Linked DNA regions of Homo sapiens: region 2 is linked to region 1. The links come from fine-mapping of genetic effects on gene expression. Tissue or cell type: prefrontal cortex. Region 1 holds a variant in brackets; the other region holds the start of a gene. All regions are shown on one strand. Distances are between the middles of the regions.

Region 1 (8,103 bases):
CCAAAATGGATGCATCAACAAATATAAGGCTTTGTCTTTCATTTAGAATTGTTGAGGAAACTGCCAGAAGAAACAATTAAAATAATCAGACATGCTTCTCTTGGGGAGTAGACTTAGAGCTGGAAAAGTAGGATGGGGAGAAGTATTTGCATTTTAAGTATGTGTAGATTTATTTATTTATTTATTATTATTTTTTAGATGAGGTCTTGCTTTGTCACCCAGACTGGAGTGCAGTGGTGCAATCACATCTCACAGCAGCCTCCACCTCCTGGGCTCAAGAGATCCTCCCACCTTGGCCTCCTGAGTAGCTGGGACTGCAGGTGCTCACCTTGGCTTCCCGAGTAGCTGGGACTGCAGGTGCTCACCACTATCCCTGGCTAATTTTTTTTAGTTTCTATAGAGACGAGGTCTTGTTATGTTGGCCAGGCTGGCCTCGAACTCCTGGCCTGAAGTGATCCTCCTGCCTCTGCCTCCCAAAGTGCTGGGATTACAGATGTGAGCCACCACATCCGGTTCTAGATATTATTTTGATAAATTTTTTTGAGGAAAAGAAGCAAATATGAAAGAAAAGAGGAAGATGGGAAGTAAAGAGAAAGAAGGATGGAGGGAAGAAGTAAAAGAAGGGAAAGCCCAGGCCTTTGGAGTCAGGGTGCCCTGTCAAGTCATATCCTCCCTTTGTTTTTGTTTTTTTGAGATGGAGTCACCCAGGCTGGAATGCAGTGGCGGGATCTTGGCTCACTGCAACCTCCGCCTCCCAGGTTCAAGCAATTCTCCTGCCTCAGCCTCCCGAATAGCTGGGATTACAGGCGTGCACCACCATGCCTGGCTAATTTTTGTATTTTTAGTAGAGATGGGGTTTCTCCATGTTAGCCAGGCTCATCTTGAACCCCTGACCTCAGGTGATCCGCCCGCCTCAGCCTCCCAAAGTGCTGGGATTACAGGTGTGAGCCACTGCGCCCGGCCATATTGTCTCTTCAAATCTTGACTTGCCTCATCTGTTAAATGAAAACGGCCTCTCCTGGCTGTCGTTAACATGAGATGAGGCTGTGAACTCAGTGTACAGAACCCAATAGGAGAAGTCTGGCAGAGCGTTCTGGAGAGAGAGTCAGGGATGGCTTAGGAGGTGTGCACTGTACCTGGGTCAAAGAAGATGATGGCTTTGAGGTAGGCATACTCATTGTCATCGATCTGCAGCTCCTGGAAGGGCAGCACCAGCTCGTCAAGGATGCGTATGGACACCCGGCTCATCTCCGCCAGCTCCGGGCAGTGCCGAGGGACAATGTAGTCATTGCCTGGAAGGGTTGGGAGGGAGGGAGGATGGGAAGTCACCTTGGGTTGACCCCTCTCCTCTAGTTTTGGCTTTTAAGTTGGCAAGATAGCTGGTGCCTGTGGGAGGAGGACCTGCAGGGATGGTGACTCCCATTTCACAGGTAAGGAAGCTGAGGCCCAGATTCAGAAGATAAGCTGCCTTGAGTCATCCGGCTGAGCTTGGAACTTGGCTTTCTAGGACCTCTTTCACATGACCCAAGCTCCATTTACCAACATGACTCACAAGATCGATGACATTCAAAGGTCACCTGATAGGCACCAAAGCATCAAGGTTAAAGGACCAGATTCTGGAACTGCACTGCCCTGCTTAAATGGCTCTGCCCCTGATAGCTGGTTATAGTTGGATAAGTTACTTAACCTCTCTGTGCCTCAGTTTTCTTATCTATAAGATGAGGATAAATAATCGAGCTTCCCTCATAGCATTGTTATATTAAAATAGGTAGTGTTTGCAAAGCAGTGAGCACAGTCCCTGGCACACAGTGTGTGCTGTACAAGCGTTTAAAATAATAACTATGCCATGAAGGCACAGGTGACGCGGGCTGGGGCTTTGTGCCATTCTTAACCACCTCTTGCTCCTACTCCAGAAAGAACATCAGAATGCACAGGTAGGCCAGGCGCGGTGGCTCACACCTGTAATCCCAGCACTTTGGGAGACTGAGGCGGGTGGATTATTTGAGGCCAGGAGTTTGAGACCAGCCTGGTCAACATGGTGAAACCCTGTCTCTACTAAAAATACAAAAATTAGCTGGGTGTGGTGGTGCACGCCTGTGGTCCCAGCAACTCTGGAGGGTGAGGCAGGAGAATTGCTTGAACGTGGCGGGTGGAGGCTGAAGTGAGCCGAGATCACATCATTGCACTCCAGCCTGAGTGACAGAGCAAGACTCTGTCAAAAGAAAAAAGGATGCACAGGTAATTCCAGGGATAACCCTGATCGTGCTCTGACTTCAATGCTGGGAATTTGGTGACTTGCATCCACATTTCCTTGCATCTGAGTGGGGTACCCAGTTGAAAACTGAGTCCTGGAGCCCTCTAATGCAAGCCTGAGGACAGGGCCACTCCTGACTAGTCTCCCTCACCCTTGCATGCCACCATGTGAATCTCCTTGCCTGGGTGAGTGCCATGCTAGGCATACCCTCCCTGGAGCCCTGGCCAGGGCAGGCAGCCGCCTCACCTAGGAGCAGCACGTCCTTGAACACCATGGATCTCTTGGTGGCTCCGAGCAGCAGGTGCTCGCCAGCATGGGCTCTGAGCAGGGCCACCTGAAAGAGAGAAGGAACAGTGTTTGCCATCTGTACCCTTGGGAAGGCTGCCCGTAGCCAACTCAGTGACGCTGGGCAAGTCAGCTTAATGCTCCCCTCTGCCTCTACCTGCCTGAACTGTGAAATGGGCATCATAAAACTACTACCCATAAAACTAGAAACCTGGAAGGGGAAAGAACATGTGCTCAGAGCTGAGAGACCTCGCGCTGACTCTGTCCTTGAACTGCTGTGTCCTTGGGCAAGAAACTGCTTCGTGCTGGGCCTCTTCTGTGTGCCTGATGAAACTGTAAGCAACATTCTGTGTGCTTTTTTTTTCTTTTTTGAGATTCTCAAAAAGGTCTATGATCCCAAAAAGTTCCAAAACTGTGGGTCCCAAATTCCCACCCATGGACCAGCTATGGAGAATTATGAAGGGTGCTTTGTAAAAATACAGATTCTATTTTTTTTTTTTTTTTTGAGACAGAGTCTCACTCTGTCACCCAGGCTGGAGTGCAGTGGCATGATCTCGGCTCACTGCAGCTTCCGCCTCCCAGGTTCAAGTGATTCTCGTGCCTCAGCCTCCAGAGTAGCTGAGACTACAGGCGTGCACCACCATGCCTGGCTAATTTTATTTTTAGTAGAGACGGGGTTTCACCATATTGCCAGGCTGATCTCGAACTCCTGACCTCAGGTGATCAGCCCAACTCAGCCTCCCAAAGTGCTGAGATTACAGGTGTGAACCACTGCGCCCGGCCTGAAAATACAGATTCTTAGGCCCTGAGATTCTGATCCTGATTTTGTATGTTTAGGGTGGGCCCAGGGATCTGTGTTTAAAAAGCTCCATAGTTGACTCTGAAGTGCAATTCTGTTTGGGAAATCATTGGTCTGGCAGATCCCTCCAGGGATCGACATTGCAGGACTCCAGGATTCTGAGAGGGCATTACAAGAACTTGGATGTGGATGTTAGGTCTCAGGGCTGGTCCTTCTCAGAGCAAATGTATGAGCACTGGCCCCTGGCAGAGAATCAGCTTGATGAAACC[A/C]TTCTCTGCAGGGGGTACAAGGCAAGACTTCTAAGACTGGAGTCATAGGTAGGGGCCCAGCAAGCTCACAGAAGGACATAGCCAGCCCACTGAGAGCCATCTGCTTTAGTGCTTGCCTGAGGACCAAAGGATGGCTTGAAACAAAACAGCACCAGGCTGGTAGCCTCAAGGATCTCATCTTCTCATCTTCAAGGTTGGGTTAGGGAGTTTGGAGGTTCCATAGCAAGCCAAACTAGAAGGTTAAAATCCTTTGTTTGTTCATTAATTTGATTGTTCATTCTTTCAGTTATCAAATCCTAAATGCCTACTAAATGCCAGACACTTTTTAAGACAATGGAGGCACAATGTTTAAAAACGAGAGACAAGGTCTCTAATCTCATCGAACTAACATTTATAGGAGAGAGGATGAACAGATAGTAGAGAACAAATAAGTACAGAGGACACAGGGTGATCACAGCATAAAGGAAAGAAGGAAGGAGAAAAGGTGGGAGGAAGGGAAGGAGGGAGGGAGGGGAGTGGAAAGGATGGTGAGAGCAATGGGGCAAGAATGGCTACGTTAGATGGGGAGGTCAGAGAAGGCCTCTAAGGAGGTGAAATTGTTGTTAGAGGAAAGAAGGCATTTGTCTGAAGATATTTGGCACAAAATAAGCCTTCAATAAATATTTGAATGAAGGAAGGAAAGGGGAAATGAATGAATGAATGAGCAAACATCTTGACTTCCTCTCTAGCTCTAGCTGCTCCTGGGCAGCCACTTGTCCTTGCCCCTTCTATTCCCCATGGATAGAAACCTGTGAGGAAAACAGAAAAAGAGGAAACTGCCTGGGAGGGAAAATCCACTTTCCATGACCAGTATGGAGGGAGGCCGAGGATGCTGATTGCCAAGCGCCTCCTGCGCACTGGGCACTGTGCAAGTCTTTCATCAGTCACTCCAGTGGCCTTCACATCGCGAAGCGGAAGACCTGGATTTGAATCCCAGTTCTGTCGCTAACTTGCTCTGTGACTTCAGGCAAATTTCTGTCTCTCTCTAAGCCCCAATCTCTTTCTGCAATTGTATCCAGGCCCAAGAAGCACACCAACTGGGAATCTAGTTTCTGGGGCAATGTCAACAAAATTGGGAAGCCCTTTGGAGGACAATGCCCCCGACTTTCCCAGGGATGCCCCACCTGCATTGGGCAAGCTGGGCTCCTCATATACCAGGAATGGGGAGCTGGGAACCCTTCTGATCCCAGGTTCAACCCCCTGATATGGCAGCTGTTCTGGGGGGTGGGCCGGGAGGTCGGGGTGGTGTGTTAATGATTGTCCTGTGTTATTGGCCACCCATCATTGCTCTCTGAGAATGCTCTGAGCCCCAGCCAGGGAGGTTTGGGTGGGAAATCGAGGTTAACAATTGCTCAGGTTGGGGGTATCTTGTTGCCCTGCTAAGCCCCTGGGAAGGAACAGGAGGGATTAAACATTAATGTAGAGACTCCAGCAGAGGGGACTGGGGCCAGAGCACAAGGAACAGGGGAGAGGGTAGGGGCGGATTGTCCAAGATCCTTGCCCTGTCGACTCTGCTAATGGAAGGAGGAACCATGGAAGAGGGCCCCGGGTCCAGCCCCTGTATGAGGCTGGGGACAAGCCAAACCAGCGTTTTCACAGTGTCCCAATGTGCAGTATTAATAGGTGTTCCAGGAGAATCTTGCCGAAGGAGTTTGAGAAGCCTCGGCCTCTGCAAAGTCAAACAACTGCCTGGACGAGACTTCTCAGAAGCTTTCACAGACTCACATGCATTGTCAGTGTCTTATGCAAAGGTGCGAAACGGGTAAGCGAATGCACCAGAGTCTGTCTCCGAAGCTGAGAAGGTGGCCCAGCCCAGCTCCTCTTCCCCAGATGGGTAACATCTCTTTGGAGGCCCAGGGGTGCTCTGGGCAGGAGCTTCATAGGTGGCATCTCCGAAATTCATCTGTCCTCAGACACACGCCACCTTCCTTCAACCCTTTCTTCCCCCTAGGGACATTTCAGTATTCCAAAAAAATGTACGGTGGGAAATATGATGCTCAGTTCAATTGTTTTGGTGGGAAACACGATGCTGAGTTCAATCGTTTTGGTGGGAAACAAGGAAGAAACTAATGTTTAGGGAGACCAGCTCTGGTCTGGCCACTGTGCAGCTTGCCCCATCACCTGATTTTTGTACTTTTCAGACACCAATGTCCTCAATCCTCCCAACCACACTCTAAAGTGGATATTATCATTTCCACTTTACAGATAAGAGAACACTGAGGCTCAGAGAGAGGAACTCATTTGCCCAGGATTAGGCAGACAACCAGTCTTAGAGCCATAGCTTAAGCCAAAATCTCCTGATCCCTGTCCTAGGGTCCCTGTCAACATCCCCCTGGGAGAGCCTCAGGTACAATGGTCAGGAGCTTGGACTTTGGAGCTTCCTGCCAGGTTCTAATCCCAGCTATGCTGGATAGTAGCTATGTGACCTTGAGCAGGTTACTTAACCTCTCTGTGCCCCAATCTCCTCACCTATGAGATGGCAGTAATAATAGTACCTTAGTACCTACCTCATAGAGTTGTTGGAGGAGCTAACTGAGTTAATATTTGTAAGGTGATTTAAAGTTTCAGACACGTGTGTGCACTACATATTTTGTTAAATAAAATAAAATCAAGCCAGTCCACGGCTATATCCCAGGTGGGCCAGCAGCCCCCTGGCTGCCCCGCCCACTGCCCACTACTGCCCACCATCCACGCCCATCCTCACCTGGTCGTCCAGGGGGAGCTCGCAGAAAGCTGGGATGTACTTGGCCCACTCAACGAGAACCAGCAGCTGCTCCTTCATGGACTCACACACATCTGCGATGCTGGCAATCTTCTTCGCCCGAATGTCGCCGTTGATCCCGGAGACGGGGGAGGTGATCTTCGAGAGATACAGGGAAGAAAATGCTGGAGATGTCCGGGCCCTCCCGCACTCTCTGTCCCCTGCACAGAGCCCCCTCCCTGGAATCAGATGTGGGGAGGGGGCTGGATAGTGGGTGCCCTCCAGCTCTGAAGGAAGCTCAGGGTAAAAACGGAGGGAGGGAGGAGGCAGGGATGAGGGAGAAGGGCTCCCTCTGTGCCTTCACCTGTTACCTGCCCCCTGCCCCCTCCTCTGTCAGCTTTAGAGCCCCAAGGAGTCTGTCAGCCTTAGAGGAGAAGCAGGGCAAAAAATCATCATCCTTTTCTGACAATGAGGCAACCATGGCTCAGAGAGGTGCTGTGACTTGCCCAAGGTCACTCAGCAAGGGAAGGGCTGGGCCCCACTTTGCCACCTCTCTCCACTGAGCCACTGCTCTGTTCTCTCGGAGCTGAGCTGATCGCAGGCCCTCAGTGAAGGTGAAGACTCTGCTTGGCCTGTGGGATGCAGGCAGTAGGATGAATTAGAAAGTGCCCCAGGGCGCCAGGTTCGATTCCTGCCCTTGCTGCAAACTGGGCCATGTGAAACCGGACTCAGTGTCCCTTCTGTAATATCTGAGGCCCCTCCCGTCAGCTGCTCCAGGGCCTGGCTGGGGAGAATGGAGGTGGAGGAGGTGAGCTCCTCTGTAGTGTGGGGGATCCCTGGGTGGGTGGCAGGATCACCCCGGTACCTGTCGGGACAGGACCTCCGCCTGCAGGAGCGCATTGATGGAGGGCAGGCTGCTGTCCTCATAGCTTGACCTTCGAGTGCTGATCCGGTCCCGCTCATTCTGGACGGCTGTGAGGAGGCACAGAGAGGTGAGGAGGGAGAACAGGGATGGAGTAGGGGGTGGGGGTGTCTGTGACTGATGAGGAGTGGGAGCAGGAGGTGGGGGGTGTCCAGAGAACAGGCCCACATCAGCATGTGGAATGAGGGGAGATGGCCTCTAACTCAGCTGGTGGAAGAACTTTCCACATATCACAACTGCCCCCAACACAATGGAGAGGCTATAAGAGTGATCCACCCATCAGCAGGGGCGCGCAAGACAGTGAAGACTCGGCTATGGGTTTAAAATTGGTCTTGAGCATTGAGGAGGGGATCTGACTAGCTTAAAGATGTTCAAGCTCTGGTCTACAAAAGGGTCCCTTTCTTTCCAAATGAAAGTGAGTAAAGCAAGCAAAACAAATTACTCTGGGTGACAAGGAGATGGCCTGGGGATTCCTGAACAAGAGGATCTGGGGGCTCCAACTGCCTTGATGGTTTTGTCCATCAGCAGGAGCTGCATGTACTCCAGACTAACCTCAGCATCAGCAAGGCCAGGCGCTGTCTCCCTCCCTCCCACTGCTGCTCTGTTCCAGGCACTGAGGGATCTGGAGCCTACGCCCACCGGGGCCCCAGGCTCCACTGCCTGCTCCCATCTGGGTCAGTCCTGGCCTGAGATAGAAGATGATCCTTCCACCATCCCGACAGTGGATGGGATAGCCCTTGGAGTCCAAGAGGCCTCACTGTGGAATGAGGCTTGGCTGATTCAGAAAGGAGGGAGGTTGAAGCTGCACCAGACCCGGCTTCCTGTCTGGAACCT
Region 2 (8,103 bases), 62 kb after region 1:
GGAGTCTGCCAGGAGGTTTCTGGGGAAGTTTTGCTTTTGGATAAAAGAAACAAGGGCACTGAGGAAAACCTCTTCTCCTCCTGCCTCCAGCTTCAGACACGTAAGTGCAGACATGACAGCTGAAGCTGGGACAGCCAGTTTGGGTTATAATGGGGCAAATACAAGGACCAAAGACAACGCAGTGAGGAGGGCAGAGAGGAAGGAAGGCAAGAGAGTGGGATCTGGCTGACATTGATGATCATCATTGTAGCGCTGTTTTAAGCCCATCATTTCACTCATCCAACAAATGCTTATTGAGCATTTCTTCTGTGCCAGTCACCATGTGAGACATAGTGAGACAAACAAGGCTGAACAAACTACCCAGGTCCCAGAACTCACGGAGTTTATAGTCTGGTGGGGCAGCCAGACACCACAATTCACACCAGCAACTATCTGATCAGAGCGATGACGAGAACCGCAAAGCCAAAACCAGTGTGCCGTGGAAGCACCGGAAGTCCAGGGAGGGCCAAGTCCACCCAGCATCACCACACCAAAGAGCAGCTCTTTAGAATCCTGCTAAAGCTCAAAAACATGAAACCACAACGAGGATTTCTTGCGTGCTTGCTCTGGACCCAGGACTGTTCTAAGCACTCATGGATCCTTCCATTTGATCCTCACAACAGCCATGTCTTCCTCTGCCTCTAACTGAGGCTCTGCTATGTGCCATGTCCCTGACCCACCAATGCACCTCTACTATAGTCATCTTAGGAGATGATTAATGTTATCCCCATTAGAGAACCCCAGAAGAAGATTTTTTGTTTGTTTTTTGTTTTTTTGTTTTGTTTTGTTTTTTTTGAGATAGAGTCTTGTTCTGCTGCCCAAGCTGGAGTGGCAGTGGCATGATCTCAGCTTAATGCAACCTCTACCTCCCAGGTTCAAGTGAGTCTCATGCCTCAGCCTCCCAAGTAGCTGGAATTACAGGCGTGTGCCATCATACCCGGCTAGTTTTTGTATTTTTAGTAGAGACGGGGTTTTGCCATGTTGGCCAGGCTGGTCTCGAACTCCTAATCTCAAGTTATCTGCCCGCCTCAGCCTCCCAAAGTGCTGGGATTACAGGCGTGAGCCACTGCACCCAGCCTGGGAGAGGGGTTTTGTTTCCTCGGAGCACTTGTTTCTTTTCTCAGAAAGCAAATTTTTCTTTTCTTTTTTTTTTTTTTCTGGAGCCTTCCAGCAGACTTCAGTAGCTCATTTTACAGATAAAACATGTGAAGCTCAGAGAGGGGTAATGATTTGACTCACAAGACCACACAGTTTTTTGTTTTGTTTTTTTTTTTTAAATAAGGTAGATCTAGGATGCTAACCCAGGTGTATTTTATCAAAAATATCAAATCAGGGTCTTTCAGCCACTCTCACACACATACACATAGGCACACATACACTGCAGTGAATGTTCCACTGCCCCAGGACAAAAGTGCTCATTTTTTGTGGATGTACTGCAAGGTCACTGGAGTTCTCCTTTCTCTGTCCAGCCATATCTGTGGCCTAGAGCAGAGGGCCAGCAACAGCTGGATTGTGTCAAGTCTCGAGTCAGATGACATTTTTTGTTTGTTTGTGTTTTTTTTTTAATCTTGAACCTTAGTTTTTTCTTCTGTCCTTGGAGATTACAATATTATTTATCTCAGACAGCCGTTTGGAAAATGAAACAGCTGTCTGAGAGATAATAGTAGAACATTCACTAACCCATTCATCCATCCATTCACCCACCTACCTGTCGATAGAAGCAACCATTCTAATAATTGCTGAATGTTTGCTATATAATGAGTATGACACAGGAGCAGAGATGAAGAGACATGAGGACATCCTACAAGGTGCAGAGACGTGGGAGACAGTGAAAGGCTGTCAGGTTATATTATTGTATCATCCTTTAAGAGACACTGTGGGGCCTTCTGTTCACCCCTAGCTTAGCCTTATGACCTGGGCTGTCCTTCCCCAGAAGCTGTCTGGCCCCTTTGAGAGACAATGTCTTCCCCTAGCCACAGGTTCAACCAAGTCATCCATTGGCATCTATACTCCAGGTCTTAAAATTGTGGATTAAGGGTGGCCTCACCCTTAATCTCCTCTATGCTATCTCCTCTAATCTCCCCGCTCTCTGGGAGATAGGTCCTGTTGTTATCTTCATTTTACAGATGAGGAAATAGGTTCAGAGAGGGGAAATGTCTTGCCCAAGGTCACACAGCTGGTGTGTGGGATGGGTTCCCAGGCTGTTGGTTTCTTCAGCCTCTGCCATTTCCAGTGCATCACATATTCCTGTTTGATGGGGGTCAAAGCAAAGAAGATTCTTCCTGACTAGAGTCAGGAGATCAGGCCCTGATTCTGTCATTCCCTGGCCCTCTGTCCTCAGCAATTGATGACATAAATGTTGATTGTGTCTTTGCAATGCACGTGGTATCAAGGGCTTTACATCCTTGTTCCCCACGGCATCCACCATGATCTTAAGACACATCCTAGTCCTGTCTCCACTTCAGAAAGAAAGCAAGAGGCACGTGAATGTTGAGCCGTGTGACAGAGTCACAACTAGACCCCGAGGTCTGCTGGATTCCAGAGACCAAGTTCTGTGCGGGTGTGTGATTTGAACAGGTTTATAAAAGGCACCCAACTTTTAAAAAATCCAAAATGTGTCCCCAAAAGATAAAACATTCTCTTGAATTTCCCTCCTCAGAAACAAACCTGTCACCAATTTTATTGTGTCATTCCACGAATTTTCTATGCGTGGAATGTACACGTATACGCGTGTGTACATATATACATCTATATCCGTTTCGCTATCAGCAACTACACAGTTCTTCAGTGTACCGTTTTCACTTAATTTAACTGAGAGGTTCTTCCCTGTCACACACAGATGTGCGTTGTTTCCTTGAACAATGGGATAGCATTCCACTGTAAAGACGTCTCACGCTTTATTTACCCGTCTTCCCTCTGCTGAGGGACATTGGGTTGCTTCCAATGTGGGGGTCACCCTAAGGAGTGAGCCTGAGCCTTTCACTCTCAGTAACACATGCTTTCTAGCCCTGCATCTGAGTTTCACACGTCCGCACAAGATATTCTCATTTTCCAACGCTCCACCCTGCGCGGCGCTTTCTACCTCCTCCCCATTATCCAGAGCCAACGGAGGTGCGGAGCGACCGAGCTGCCCGGTCCCACGCCCAGCTTGATAATGCACCAGCAACGTGACCTAGGCCCAGCAAGCCTCTCCTGGTGGACCTCAATTTGCCCCGCATCGAAACAGGACGGTGCTTCCAAGCCCCACCCTCTGTGGGGTTTTGGAAAGACCCCTGAGATGCATTCCCAGGAAGGCCTCTGGACAGACAAAATGAGCCAAGCCTCTGCCCCAGGGCTTCTCGGCCCCTCCCAGCACTTCTCGCACCAAGCAGGCCATGCCCCGGCTTGAGAGCTTAGGGAAGCGGTCACATTGCCTCCGTGGGGCTTCCTGCCCTTCCAGAGGAGCTCCAGGAGGAGCTTTGGGCCCGTAAGAAACACACGGGGAGGTGTCCCATGGCCTCCCAAAGCTGACCGCAGTCCCGCCCTGTCCAGTCTTCCCCCAGCCCCACTTACCGTAAGAACTCTCCACTGGAGCCCCGAGGGGCGCGTTCACGCTGACCATGGCCAAGCCCACCCAGCCGGAGAGCTGGGGGCATGGAGGAGCAGGGGCCCGCTCACAGCAGCAGCACAGCCACCAGGAGCCCGTCCACCAGGAAGGCGGTGAGTGCGGCCAGCTGCCACCGCCCGGTTATCTTATTGATTCTTCTAATCACCCAAGGTGGGTGGATACGTTAAAGAGTAACCAGTCACTTAGGGAACCCGCGGCTGGGGACTGTTGCTGTCTCCATGGCAATGGCGACCTGGCCAGACCTGAGGTCCACTCGGGTCCTAGTCCTGCACTCTGGGGTTAGGGGAACCCAGAGCCAGGTGTATGGGGACATCAGCCCCCCAATTTGAGGACAGGGCCGGAGCAGAAGGGGCTGGAGAGGTGAGAGTCCAACCTGGGTTGGGTTTTATGGCTCCAAACTATGGGTGTGTCACCATGCAGGAAGTAGTGGGAAAACCGAGGGAGGGGCAGAGGAAAAAAGGAGGGTGGAGAACTGTGTTTAGTGAGTGCCTACTGGATGCTGGGAGTTGCATACAGGCGTTACCATATTTAAATTAAACCTTGAGATGAAGGGACTGAAGGACAGAGAGAAATTGCATGCCTGGAGTCTCACTGCTAGTACATAGAGGTGTTATCTTCCTTTCATCTAACATATTTATTGAGCACCTACTATGTACCAGGCCTTGTGCTAGACTCTGGGGATATGGAAATGAGCAAAGTAGATGTACCCCCGAAACTTGTGGACTAATGGAGGAGACGGACCTTAATCAGATCGTCATTCAAAGATACTATTACAAACTGGTGAGTGATATGAGGGGTGGAGAAACATGGGGCTGCCTCCAGGCCAATGGGACAAAGTCATCCTGTCTGGCGTCTCCTCTGGTCTCCTTCCCCATTCTAAATTCAACCTGCTGCTGAAACTCACACACTCTGTTTTAGCTCCCTGGCATGTTAGACACCTGCCACCTAGCTTTTTTTTTGGAACAGCCCCGTTTCTTTTGTCTCAGTTTTGGATCTCACCACCTGCTTGGGGATTCTGAAATCAAGGTCATTCATCCTGTTAGAGAGAGCTGAAATGAGAACAGTGAAACAAATTCTGGACTCAGAAAAATCAGAAAACTCCAGCTCTATTATTTTCTTGCTGTATGTTTTTTAGTAAATTATTTCATTTCCTTATAGGAATACCTAGCTCATAGTTTGCCCTGCTTCTAAAATAGCTAATTGATAATATTCCTCTTCTCTTCCCATAGTCTCTTTTTTCAGCTTTATCAATCACCTCAGAGGGACCTTCAGCCCCTACAGATGGGCATGGGTTGCATTAAAATGTCCTTTCTTTTCTAAAACAACAGTGATAACAAACGTTAGATTTTGGGGCCGGGTGCAGTGGCTCACGCCTGTAACCCCAGCATTTTGGGAGGCCGAGGCGCACCGATCACGAGGTCAGGAGTTTGAGGCCAGCCTGACCAACATGGTGAAACCCCGTCTCTACCAAAAATAAAAAAATTAGCCGGGCATGGTGGCAAACGGGAGGCTGAGGCAAGAGAATCGTTTGAACCAGGGGGACAGAGGTTGCAGTGAGCCAAGATCGTGCCACTGCACTCCAGCCTGGGCAACAGAGAGAGACTCCATCTCAAAATAAATAAATAAATAAATAAATAAATAAATAAATAAATAACTTCGATATTTTTTAAAAAAAAGTATTAATATTCTTGGTCGGGTGTAGTGGCTCATGCCTGTAATCCCAGCAGTTTGGGAGGCTGAGGCAGGTGGATCACTTGAGGTCAGGAGTTTGAGACCAGGCTGGCCAACACGGTGTAATCCCATCTCTACTAAAAATACAAAAATTAGCTGGGTGTGGCAGCGAGCACCTGTAATCTCAGCTACTCGGGAGGCTGAAGGAGGAGAATCGTTTCAACCTAGGAGGCAAATGTTGCAGTGAGCCAAGATTGCACTACTGCACTGCAGCCTTGGCGACAGAGCCAGACTCCATCTCAGAAAAAAAAAAAGTATTAATATTTTTATATGGGGGTGGGGGAGGTTTGCTAACCCTATGTCAATTTCCCAAAATGTTCTGGAGATTTAAGTGGTACGTAACCCCCTGCATGAAGTGGCGTCATGAGGTCACATAACTACGAAGGAGCCAACACAGAACTGGAATTCAGCATCATCTGACCCCAAAGCCCGTGCTATTTCAACAGGTCTCACATTGCCTTCCTGAGCACCAGGATAATGAGGATGACAACCACTGGCATTTATGAACTCTTTAGTTTGTCAGCATTGTATATTCTTAACGTCATTGAATTGTCACTGTCAATATTCCCATTTTACAGATGTAAAAACTGGGATTCAAGAAGTTTCATTAAATCTGTTCTTTTTTTTTTTTTTTTTTTTCTGAGACAGAGTTTTGCTCTTGTTGTCCAGGCTGGAGTGCAATGGCGCCATCTCGGCTCACTTTAACCTCCGCCTCCTGGGTTCAAGCGATTCTCCTTCCTCAGCCTCCCAAGTAGCTGGGATTACAGGCACACAGCACCACGCCTGGCTAATTTTGTATTTTTAGTAGAGACGGGGTTTCACCATGTTGGTCAGGCTGGTCTGGAACTCCTGAACTCAGGTGATCCACCTTCCTTGGCCTCCCAAAGTGCTGGGATTACAGGTATGAGCCACTGTGCCAGGGAAGAGACAAGCCAAAAGTGCCACTGTAAGGTGGGAATTCCACGTGATCTCTTCGGTTTTCCATTTCTGATACTGCCTTCGAGAGCCCATTCCAAAAAATAAAGTAGGAAAGATATAGTCTAAGAACAATGAACTCACAACAGTGTCCTTAATTCTCTCTCTCTTTTTTTTTTTTTTTTTGAGACACAGACTTGCTGTGTCACCCAGGCTGGAGTGCAGTGGTGCAGTCTTGGCTCACCGCAACCTTCACTTCCTGGGTTCAAGCAATTCTGGTGTCTCAGCCTCCTGAGTAGCTGGGATTACAGGCGTGCCCCACCATGCTTGGCTAATTTTTGTAATTTTAGTAGAGACAGGGTTTCACTGTGTTGCCCAGACTGGTCTTGAACTCCTGGCCTCAAGCTATCTGCCGCCTTGGCCTCCCAAAGTGCTGGGATTACAGGCATGAGCCACCACGCCCAACCTCTTAATTCTCTTATTTCACTCATTTCCAGCATTTGGAAGCTAGTACTCACCCCATGCCTCATTTATCTCATCTGTAAAGTGGAGCAATAGTATACGTGCATGCACTTGTGCATTGATCTAGCCTTCTGCAGAGCGGGGCCCAAAGCGCTGTTAGTTCCTTCCCCTGGTCTTCCAGTTGAGCTGGTTTTCCTCTCACCCATCTTCCCCCACCCAGTTCCCATTCCTTGTGTTTTGACCCTCTTGGGAGCCAAGAGAGGGAGGGACCAGAAAGAGCCACTACACTGGATCTCAAAAGACTTTATTGGGGGTGGAATGGGAGGGGGTGACATGCACAGGATGAGAAAATTCATTCCATCCAGGACAACGTAGGGACTCCATGGAAAAGGGCCTGTTTTCCATCCCGGGTCTTCAAAGGAAAAGCTCTCCAGCCAGGCAGGGAGTGGGCCCCAGCTGCAGGGCAAGGTCTGAGGGAGGAGATTTTACTATCTCTGGAGACAAAAGGACTTTTGTGTGCTATGATCCCTGGGTGGGATGGTGGGGGGAGAGGGGAAATGGTTTATTGGAATGAGAGTAAGATTATATGGGAGAAAAAGAATCAGAGATGCAGAGACCAAAACAAAAACAGGCAGAGATAGAACGGACAGTAGACAAAAGAGAGAGAGACCGAGGCAGAGATAGAGAAAAAAAGGCCCAGAGAGAGTCCCCTCAGGCCAACTTTGGTTTTCACTTCTCAGTTCTGAGAGCCGAGGAAGCAGGAAGGAGCTGTGAGAGACTGAGCTCTAACCTTGGCCATCAAAGACAAGCTGTGCAGCTCTGGGTAAGTTACACCCTGCTCTGAGCCTCAGTGTACCCATCTGTAAAAAGGGGGGCCTGGACTCTGTCGTGGCTCCAGTACCATGCAGTGGGGGTGGGGGGGCGGATGTCCACAAGCCAATTTCAATGTTTTTCAAAATCATGGGCCTGAAATGTGCCCAACTCAGGGAGCGAATCACGAGTCCTCAAAGACTGCCCAGAAACTGGTTGACTGTTATGAGACGAATGAAAGCGGGTTTCCTTTCTTTCTTTCTTTTTTTTTTTTTTTTTAGAGACAGAGTCTCACTCTGTCCTCAGGCTGGAATGCAGTCGCTGGATCTCTGTTCACTGCAACCTCCGCCTCCTAGGTTCAAGCGATTCTCCTGCCTCAGCCTCCCGAGTAGCTGCGATTATAGGCGCGAGCCACCACTCCTGGCTAATTTTTGTATTTTTAGTAGAGACAGAGTTTCACCATGTTGGCCAGGCTGGTCTCGAACTGTTGACCTCAGGTGATCCACCTGCCTCAGCCTCCCAAAGTGCTGGGATTACCG

Direction of the effects. Positions count from the first base shown, and alleles are read on the strand shown. Sizes are in standard deviations (SD) of each study's normalised expression.
In carriers of allele A in region 1, the expression in prefrontal cortex of the gene that starts at base 3,746 in region 2 tends to be lower than with C alone (moderate effect, 0.44 SD a copy in GTEx).

The links. PIP is the estimated chance that this variant, and not a neighbour inherited with it, causes the effect.
Region 2: HNF4A starts here. The variant in region 1 is the best candidate, but not a certain one, in a credible set for the expression of HNF4A in prefrontal cortex (GTEx, PIP 0.59).

The regions. Positions count from the first base shown.
Region 1 is chr20:44,412,910-44,421,012 of GRCh38, reverse strand. It overlaps HNF4A (hepatocyte nuclear factor 4 alpha), which reads right to left. Exons shown (of 10, transcript NM_175914.5): 4 at 7,213-7,319; 5 at 6,351-6,506; 6 at 2,501-2,588; 7 at 1,137-1,292. Among named protein-coding and RNA genes, the nearest start is that of MIR3646, 8.8 kb to the right of the region's middle. The variant A/C (reference allele first, on the strand shown) is at 3,608.
Region 2 is chr20:44,351,342-44,359,444 of GRCh38, reverse strand. It overlaps HNF4A (hepatocyte nuclear factor 4 alpha), which reads right to left and starts at 3,746. Exons shown (of 10, transcript NM_175914.5): 1 at 3,592-3,746. The coding sequence starts at 3,640. R3HDML-AS1 (R3HDML antisense RNA 1) reads left to right here and starts at 4,203. Exons shown (of 4, transcript NR_184036.1): 1 at 4,203-4,426; 2 at 7,495-7,577. It overlaps HNF4A-AS1 (HNF4A antisense RNA 1), which reads left to right. Exons shown (of 3, transcript NR_172878.1): 3 at 1-2,701. RefSeq lists an enhancer at 5,915-6,414.